Linked DNA regions of Homo sapiens. The protein of the gene in region 3 purifies or fractionates together with the protein of the main gene of each other region. This does not show direct contact. Each region holds a gene or a part of one and is shown on either strand. Other genes may lie near its edges. The genes, in order: MBTD1, ING3 and EPC2.

Region 1 (3,287 bases), on a different chromosome or scaffold from region 3:
TGCTGAGGTTAATGGAGTTAAAAAAAAGTCTCCTACTAGCCAGGCATGGTGGCTCACGCGGTCAGGAGATCAAGACCATCCTGGCTAACACGGTGAAACCCCGTCTCGACTAAAAATACAAAAAATTAGCCGGTCGTGGTGGCAGGCGCCTGTAGTCCCAGCTACTCAGGAGGCTGAGGCAGGAGAATGGTGTGAACATGGGAGGTGGAGGTTGCAGTGAGCCGATATAGCGCCACTGCACTCCAGCCTGGGTGACAGAGCAAGACTCCATCTCAAAAAAAAAAAAAAAAAAAAAAGTCTCCTACTAAGCATGCCAACCCCAAAACACGATGTTCTAGCTAAGATGATTTAATTTCCCCATAAAGGTCCCTATTCACCTTGGCTCCTGCTGTGGTTTTTGCCCTTTCCCTCCCTGCCCATGAAATCCCACCTCCAATGCAACCTCATCCATATGTCTAACCATACTACTCTTGGCTCCCTTGGCAGCTAGTGGAAAATTCTTCCTTACAGCACTCATGTGCCTGCTACCCCTTGTAAGAGGAAGGGGCTGATCCAACTTTCATAGGGGTCTCTGACTGCTTATAGAGGGCACGCAATAGAAAAGCAACCCCCCAAACCAAAGCATATTAAAGAACTGCTCAAATCCAGCTTAACTTTAACATTTTATTTTGTGTAAAAAAGGGCAAATTTAGTGAATTATTTTCATCTTGTACACAAAGTTATAATTTTAATGCTTTTCACATCCATGCTGAAAATTTGCAATTTGGTAAAAATGAAAGGAACATAAATTTTTCCAAAGGAATTTTTCACGCCATTATATATACACTTCATGAGAAAGTTTCAAACACTTTCTCAATGATCACGAGTTACCAAGAAAATAAAAGATTAAATTTGTACAGATATTGATCTATATATCAAATACATACAGAAATGATGTAAAAACCTTATGCAGTTTACTTTGACCTCTGTCCTCAAAAGATTTGCCCAGGGACAGATGCTTTTCTTTTGTATAAATGACTGTGGCTTTATTTAAAATATGAAAATCAAAGGAAGAAACCCAGTTTAATCACAGTATTTTTAAAATCCCTTCCCAATATTAAAGGATCATTACCAATATATAGCACCATAATACAAATATTGATGGGAGAGGGTATTCACATCACGCAAAATTAATAATAATAATAAAAACAAACAAACACTGAAAACCCGTGTTAGTATCGTAGAATAAGAAGTTGATAACAGCTTTAGCTTTCCTCATACACGGCAAGGAAAAGGTTAAAGAGTTTAAACTACCAAAAGTCCCCAAATAAATCCTAACAGGAAAAACAAAACAAAACAAAAACAAACCCAAGGTCAGCAGTACATTTTGAACCGTAAAAGAGAATGGGGCGATTGAGTTGTACAACTGGAGTTATGGCTAAGACATAAATCTCCTCTGCATTAATTATTTTTCGGTTCGTCGGCAGTAGGAGTTAGTGTGTGAACAATGAAAGAGGGCTTTAGGTTGTGTTCAGACTGTAGAAAAGTCCTTACCAACCTTCAACTGTTGGTCACGGGATCAAGACAAGAAACACTTCATGAATTAGGAAATTCTAAAACACTCAGAGCCTGGGTTTGCTATAGAATTGGAAGCTTATGAAACCTGGGTATAAATGAGCATTTCATAGATTACCAGGACTGACTAGCTCCAAATCCTCTCTCTCCTGGTTTAGTCAGTTCCCCATGGAGCTCCTAAATCCAAGGTACTGGCAGAGTACACTACACAACAGGCTTCTTGTGCCTGTGCTGTGGAATTAGTCCTGGGTTTAATTCAGTGAGCCTGAGAATAAAGACTGCTCTAACCCTTGCTTTGGAATACTTCTAGGCTTTAAGTTTACAAGAAGATTTTTCAAAGTTAAAGATATGGGAAGTGTGAGGATGTCACATTTACAGTAGGTCCCTCTCAGCAATGTTAAGATAAATATCCAGTAATTTAACAGCTGAATTCACATATATTTGACACATGAGAATCAACTTGCGTTGATGTGATCTGCATTTATGCCCCTAAAGAGTCAGTATTAAGAAATGGTGACATGCGATTCCATACATTCTTACACTATAAAGTAACAAATTTTACTTCCAGTAGCTATTATAAAACCTTATGTTATTAACCCCTCTTGCATAGAATGAGGTAAACCTGTGCGTATTACCAATGCTATTATTCCCAAAAGTAGAGCAATATTTTAGAAAATAAATTGCTGGTTTTTTTTAACGTTCTATGCATTTTAAAATTCAAACAAAAGTCTTACCTAAAATGGTCTCCTGGGGCTTTCCATTAACATTTTTTAAAGCATTCCATAGGCTGAAGGACTGTAGAGGTTAATCATTTTGATTAATTTCTAATTAGCCCTACCTATATTCCAGAGGAGATGGTCAATATTACCACTCTGAAGAGGCCAGGCTAAGACCCAGAAGCACTTCTAGAACAGATGCAATTAATTCCTGAGAGTTTAGTTTATGAACCTCACTGGTAAACGCTAGAGCGCTCTCATTCAGTCACAACTCAGTAGAAAGTTAGAAAATGCAGAGAGCAAACCTTTCACCAGTTTACCCTTGTATCCTTTTTTTTTTTTTAAAAGGAAGTCATATGAATTTTAAAACAGGGAATGTTCAAAATGGTCCAAATCGGTTATTATTAAAATAAATCCTGAATACAATTAAAGACAATTTTATATATATATATATATATATATATATATATATATATATATATATATATATATGGAATTTTAAGAAAATTAAATTCTCTTTCAAATTAGTTTTCTACCAAATCCAGGATAGATAAAAGCAGAGCTGGAATGATTTTGAAATCTAAACTTATTTTGGCTTTGAATAACTTTCAATTCGATTCTCCTAATACAGAACATCTGTTTTTGGTTGTGGTTATACGAAGCTGTTATTTCACAGATAGAGGGAAATGGCAGAGAACTGATCAGAATCCCTTTCGTGGGGTATTTTTTTTAGAAAGGAAAATAAACTAAGGACAACATTACATTTTCCCCAACCCCTCAATGTGTAGACTGAGATCCTGAATATCTTGTCAACCATTCCAGTTTAACACTTTAGTGTTAGGATAATTCTAATCATTTTTTTAATTAAAAGAGAACATATAAAAGTATCCAGAGTTCTTCCAGTTTCATACAGAACTCCAAATAAATTTTCACAGAATGAAAAATATTTCTGTACAAACATTTAAAATGGGCTGCAATAAAATGCCAACAAGAGAAATAATGACCCTTCCATGACCT
Region 2 (3,102 bases), on a different chromosome or scaffold from region 3:
AGAGTCTCTTCTGCCTTGAAGGCCATCTCTACTACATCTGTCTTTAGGACTCAGTTCAAATGATAGCTCTTTTGTTAAGTCTTCTTGACTATTTCAGTAATCAATTTCCCTGCCTCCCAGTGTTCTCCCAGTGCTTTGTGTATCCATTACAGCATTCATCAAGATAACACATTTAACATGTCTGCCCCCACCAACTCCCCCCACACACACATATAATACCTTCATCTGTATATTCTCAGAATCTAGGTGCTTAGTATTTGTAAAGTTAAAGAATATTTTTAAGGGTCTTTTTTTCTCTTAAAACCCATCTGCTAAAAAATAAATGTATTTTTATCTGTGAGAGCTGAGGGGAAACCATTGCAATGTCTACACATTAAGGAGTATCTTATACCCCTTTATAACCCAAGTTTGTTAGACATTTATTTGCATAAGATTAAAATAATTAATTAGGTCAATAAGACCATTCCTAAAGTCTAAAGACAAAGGGCACTAATATTGCACAAACCTAAGATGGTTAAAAACCTAAAACGTGGAATTTGCTTTAAAGGAGAAGAGAACAAAAAAATATAAACTGCCCTTGAAAAGAATGATTGTATGCTTATCAAACACTCAGCCTCATTTTGGCATTTAATTAAGCCATTTATTGCTTCAAATGTGTCACCATGAACATTTTGATATACACTCCATAGCAGTAAGGCCTCAATTTTCACCACCTGTGAACTGTGAACCCACATTTGGATATTTTGTCCCAACTGTTACATGAGTTTTGTACAACAGAGATTTTGAATGTGTATTTTATAATACCAAAAATACTTACTATGCCCCTTGGTGTAAATGTCACAAAGAATATTAATAGTTGGCCACATTTTTGGGGGGTTGATGAGGTAGTTCCATGTTTGGCCCCATTATATATGACTCAGATATTAACAGGTTCTACCCATTACTAAATACCTGCACCAAATTTTGGTTTCTTTCTTTACACATGCTTCATAAAATATTCAGTGTTTGAGTTTAAAACTTGTCAAAGTGTTTTCTAAGTGATTTGGTAAGGAGTGGAATTCACACTGAAAGGGGATGTAGCAGCTGGATAACAGGATGTTCCTGACTCAGACAAAGAACTTTCTCTTCAAATAAGGCTGTACATAAGGCTTTTTCCTTTGACCATTTCTATAAAATGAATGAGTTTGGAATAGTCATAATATATAGAGGATGTAAATGATACATGTGAGCATTTCCAGGCAATATACTTTGATAAACGAATTGAATACTACATTATTTATCACTTCTTAAAGGGTTATAAAATCTCAAAATATTGAGTATCATGAAATCGTGATAATCATGATATTATGAAATGATGAGTACTCACAAATGAACCTAACTTGTTTAGGGAGCTGGTAGAGTTGTATAATCAGACTGTGGCAGCTCAGAATCATGGGATCTCAAAGGTGGAAGAGATCTTTGAAATCCCCTATCTACCTCACACCCTTTGGGTAGCACTGCATAGATTTTACACTGTTATCTGAATAAGTTCTAAGAAGCTCATAAGTGGTTTAATTAAAGCAGAAATCTGATGGACCCAGTAAGTTTCAATATAAAATATATATGATATATTAAGTATCTTAAAAGTTAAGGATTTTTCTATCGACCAGACTCAATATTATACTTTAAATAAAACCTCCACTATGCAAATTTATAATTTAAATAGCACCTTAGAATAAGATCTATTCTGCAGTCAGCATCACCCTGGTGTAGTAAGGCCCAGAGTGATACAAAATTTGAATTAACTGTCATATCAGTAAGTGGTAGAATCAAAAATAGCTCAATTTGGAGCTCCCGACCAGGGGGGTCTCTTTACTCTATTTGGCTACATTGCCTCCAGTCAAAACACCCATAACCATTATTTTCGTTTTAACTGCTATACTTACACTTCTTTCATGTCTTTTAGACTGAAGGAAAAGCCAGATGATGTTCTTAAAAAAATACATTGGCATTTCAAATTTACATTAAAAATGTCTTTCCTGTATTCTTATATCACAAACTCTAAACATCATTAAAGACATCACAGATTACACAGTATTCTGTGTCCTGGGTCTCTGATTCTTTTTAGATTATGAAAGTTGAAAGTTAATTGGAATTCAGAAATTTTCATTATTAAGTATGTAAAGTATAAATACAAGTAATTTTTTAAAAACTTTATTTTAACACCTAATACAATTGCAATTTTAAGGATTACTTGCACAAAAAAATAAACACATTTGGTATAAAAATGTATCACTTTAACGCCCTTTCCCCTTCAGTCCCCCGCCCCCTCCCTCATGAACTGCACTCTATCTGGATGCAGAAACATAGAAAGACTAATGGCACAAATTACTTTTTACCTACAGGAGTTTCTGTTTATGTACCCAGGTACTCTAGAGGATACCAGCCCACATTATCACATGAACCATTTCCTTCAGCCTGCTGAATTAGTTTCACAAAGAAACAAAGCTTATTATAAAGGCATTTTAAAAACCATTATCTTAAATTCTTTTTAGAAGCACTGACTTTTTTTTTTTTTTGCAACCATTTATATACAGTGTTACATAACAGCTCTGGAGTACAGTACATGCAGCAGAATATACCTGTTGAATATAAAATACTTTCCTTAAAATCTTCATCATTGGAATTCCTTGAAGTCTAAATCATAGAATGCCCATTACTTTGAGAAAATGGTTGAGGAGTACAAATGTCTGCATATGTTGGCCACTGAAATAATCCAAGGCTAACTGGAATAATATTCATAGCACACCAGGAGTGCATAAATAATTTACTTACATTATTAAAATACAACCCATAAAATTCAAGTTCAAGATCTTATAGGATTGTCTATGTAAATCCTTTAAGTGGTTGCCTGGAAATGCATTGTTTCTTCTTTCTCTTCTCTTCTTTTTAAAGTCCTATATAAAATCTTCAGCTGAAGTTTATTTCTTCATCAAACAAAAGGACCACCTTTATTTGTGTCTGCTGCCTCTTCTCTTCATTGCAGCAGTGCACTGTGGACAGTACCATTTGCCTTTTGGTGCCTCTGTCAATCCAACGCAGCCATAATGGAACCATTCTATA
Region 3 (3,762 bases):
TTCACTGTGACTCTTAGTGCAGCATTCTGCATTATAGTAGATAGTAAATATTTGTTGATTGAAATCATTGGGAGAAAGGATAGCAAGCAATAAAGAAAACAGAGCAAAATTACTCTAAAGTACATGTATTATCATGTCATTTAATTTTTCTTGACTCTAATATTATAATGACTTCCATGGAAATGTCTTTGTGTTCTCTAAATCAACTTATCAGTGATCTACTTAAATATCAACGAATGAAATTTTGTTTACATTTCTTTGAGAAAAGTGGTTTCTGTAACTTAGCTGATTTTTTCAACAAAAGTTGTAGATGTCTTGTTTTCATTTGAAACACACTTTTAACACAGTTGGTCGCAGTAGAATTTACTACATCTGAGGATACATAGTATCTTCAGTTTTCTGAATACTTGTCTGATTTCTAGCCCATATTTTTATAGATGGATTTACTTTAGGCGTTGAATCTATTGGCTTAAACTATGGTTTGTGGTTATGTTAGATGAATGTTGTTCTCTACTTTGATTTGTAATCAGAGAATAAAGTATTTTCACTTCAGTGTTTTATGAAACCAGCAGTAAAAATCATTTATAGTCTTGCAGATGGTCCTGCTTTCTTATTAAGGCTATAACTTAGTCATCATTATTATTAACATGAATAAATCAAAGTTTTTTTCATTACATGCTCTCCATAATATAGAGAATTAAGAGTGGTCTCAAAGATACTAAGTCTGAATAAATGGTAAAATACTCATGTTAGAACTGTATTATTCAACAAAAACTACATTTAGGCACTTTTCTTAGCATGTGATGGAGATTATAAATACAAGCATACACCACACTTGCTGGAAGATTTGCCATTTTCATTAGATTATTTTCTGATATTCCATATTGTAATTTGTAATTGCTTTCATCTTAATTGTGGAATAAGTTTATATCATATTCTGCTTGTGTTATTAAAAATCTTTTAAAACGTACTCATTTCCAAAATTCATGTTCTTTACCAGTAACAGGGGGTATCACAGAAGAGCAGTTTCAGACACATCAGCAGCAGTTAGTTCAGATGCAAAGGCAGCAACTTGCCCAGCTTCAGCAGAAACAGCAATCTCAGCATTCCTCGCAACAGACACATCCAAAAGCACAGGTAAACTGCTCTTTTCGTCATAGTTACGTTTGTTTCTTTCATCATTATGTAGTTTTATTCCATTTTAGTCAAGTCACAGAAGATAATCTTGGTTTTGCCACTCTTGATTTGGGGTCTGTAACCTGAATTTCTTTTCAGTTAATGTACGTAATTTTAAGTGACTAGCTTATAAACTAATCTCTTAATATTTTGAGAAGAGTGCTGGAGCCAAATATGGTATTTTAAATTTTTTGAAGGGTTGTTGAGAATTTATAGAAGTAATTATATATGTAGTTGTAAGAATCATTCTCCACCTCCACTCCCCCAAAGATTTTTTTGAAAGATAAAACTTTCCTAACCACTTCCTAAACTATGTGTTTAAGTGCATGTGGATGTGCTCCATGAGCTGGGCAGTAATTCAGTTGAATTGTGCAATACATCAACAGCATAACCCCTTGCCATTGTGAATCACATTTCCCTGTTGAAGAAAATTGCAACCAGGCACGGTGGCTCATGCCTGTAATCCCAGCACTTTGGGCGGCCGAGGCGGGCAGATCACTTGGGGTCAGGAGTTCAAGATCAGCCTGGTCAACGTGGCAAAACCCTGTCTCTACTAAAAATACAAAAACTAACTGGGCATGGTGGTGAATACCTGTAAGCCCAGCTACTTGGGAGGCTGAGGCATGAGAATCGCTTGAACCCTGAAGGTGGAGGTTTCAGTGAGCTAAGATCGCACCACTGCACTCCAGCCTGGGTGATAGAGTCAGACTATGTCTCCAAAAAAAACAAAAAAAATTAATTAAAATTTTTTAAAATGAAGAAGAAAATTGCCACTAGGGGAAGTTGTTTGTAGACACCACTAAATAAAGATGCTAGAGATAAGAATAAAAATACTTCATAAAACCATAATTGCCAGAAGGAACCAGCCCTGCCAACACCTTGATTTTAACCCCATAAGCTTCATTGTGGACTTCTGGCCTGCAGAACTATATGATAATAAATTTTTAAGCCACTAAAAGCAAAACTAAGAAATCTATTTCAAATTTGAACCACCTGAAAAACATAAACCTTGCGTTTTAGGTCTTAAGTTTTATTGCTCTATAATTCTAAAACCACTTCTAAAGTAATAACTGAGGTTTACTCAATTTTGGTTATATTTTGTGAGCTCTCAGGCTAGAATCTGCCCATTGTAGTTCAGCCCATTCTCAAAGGGTCAGTACACTGACTTTAAAGATCCTGACTCCAGTAACATGAAAATCTCAGTGACCCTGGAATGCAACACTCCTGTGACATCCAGGTGGATCTGGGACTTGCTCAAGGACTAGGGCTGTAGGACTTAGTAACTAGGACTTAGTAACCAGTTTTATACAGAATCAAGGAGGAATGGCCATTTAACTTTACTTTGTTTGCTTTTTCTGAGTCTCCTGGTTAACCAACCAAAAGTATTTTCATCCTATTTCAGGGTTAGGCCAAGATAGGTTTTCACATTGTGACAAAAATGTCTATTAATCATCTCTATGATTTCATTTTATCCAAGTATGTAGTTTTTCAAGCATTTTTAAAACCATTCATTAATATTTTTTGGAAAAATTAATAGAACATTAAAGCCTTGGGTTATTTAATCTCTAGTTCTTTCTCAGAAATAACTTCTCAGTTTTTGTTCGTTTCCCTGCTTCATATGCCAAAAATCATCTATGGAATCGTAGATCGCTTAATCTAAACACTTGTAATTGTTCAAGGTTAGAAAGGCAACAGCCTCTTGGGTTTGCCCCATCCCTTAATATGTTCATAAAATCACATCTAAAAATTAGAGTGTTTAACTTTGTTCATTTTATAGGGCTCAAGCACCTCTGACTGTATGTCTAAAACACTTGACTCAGCCAGCGCCCACTTTGCTGCATCTGCAGTGGTCAGTGCACCTGTTCCAAGTCGCAGTGAGGTAGCCAAGGAACAGAACACTGGCCACAACAACATAAACGGTGTTGTCCAGCCTTCAGGTACAGCTGGGGTTTCACATGGTACCTACTTTCTTGAAGTTGTAACTCAGTGATTGGGAGTTTGTTTTTTGTTTTTTTATCCAAGGGGAAAATGTGTATAAGTCAATCAGGACTCTTTAGGATTTCTTTGGAAAGATAGTGGGAAATAGGTAGATGTTTTCTAGAATTCATGTAGAATCTACTCCTTGTTTTCTCCCTCATCCATTGAATACATACCTGTGTAACATTCTACCCTTCCTGGTTTCATTCACATACTGTCAGTTGCCTCACATCTTAGGAAATCTGTTGAGCTAACCATCCCCATTGAATCATGCATGCATTGATAAAAAAGTGAAAGATAATCCAGGACAGTAATAAATTGGAAATCAGATTTGCCTTCCCACTCTTACATACTGCTCATAGGCATACTAACTCTGGCTCCCGCTCTTTAGATAGAGTATTGCTGTGAAACCCTGTGTGCTTCTTAGTACCCTGAGTCCGCAAAGACTTGTTATTCCTATCATCCTTCAACTACCTCTCAGACCCTAGGATTTTCCAGTTGCTTTTATATATACCCATGAACCTGATTGTCCATTTTTACTAATATTCATGCATGTGTACATACTTAGGGAAACCCAACTGTCATTTCCATCTGTCCTGTTATACTTAA

Evidence for each region.
Region 1: the proteins of EPC2 (region 3) and MBTD1 purify together in Homo sapiens (affinity purification with mass spectrometry; 3 studies listed by BioGRID and IntAct, with this or other methods). This does not show direct contact.
Region 2: the proteins of EPC2 (region 3) and ING3 purify together in Homo sapiens (affinity purification with mass spectrometry; 3 studies listed by BioGRID and IntAct, with this or other methods). This does not show direct contact.

What each region holds. Positions count from the first base shown.
Region 1 is NC_000017.11:51,176,776-51,180,062, forward strand, and holds the end of MBTD1 (MBT domain-containing protein 1), read right to left. Parts: 3' UTR 650-3,287; downstream 1-649. UniProt on the Homo sapiens protein: Chromatin reader component of the NuA4 histone acetyltransferase complex, a multiprotein complex involved in transcriptional activation of select genes principally by acetylation of nucleosomal histones H4 and H2A.
Region 2 is NC_000007.14:120,974,733-120,977,834, reverse strand, and holds the end of ING3 (inhibitor of growth protein 3), read right to left. Parts: coding exon 2,991-3,102; 3' UTR 619-2,990; downstream 1-618. UniProt on the Homo sapiens protein: Component of the NuA4 histone acetyltransferase (HAT) complex which is involved in transcriptional activation of select genes principally by acetylation of nucleosomal histones H4 and H2A.
Region 3 is NC_000002.12:148,780,644-148,784,405, forward strand, and holds part of EPC2 (enhancer of polycomb homolog 2), read left to right. Parts: intron 1-1,000; coding exon 1,001-1,137; intron 1,138-2,953; coding exon 2,954-3,113; intron 3,114-3,762. UniProt on the Homo sapiens protein: May play a role in transcription or DNA repair.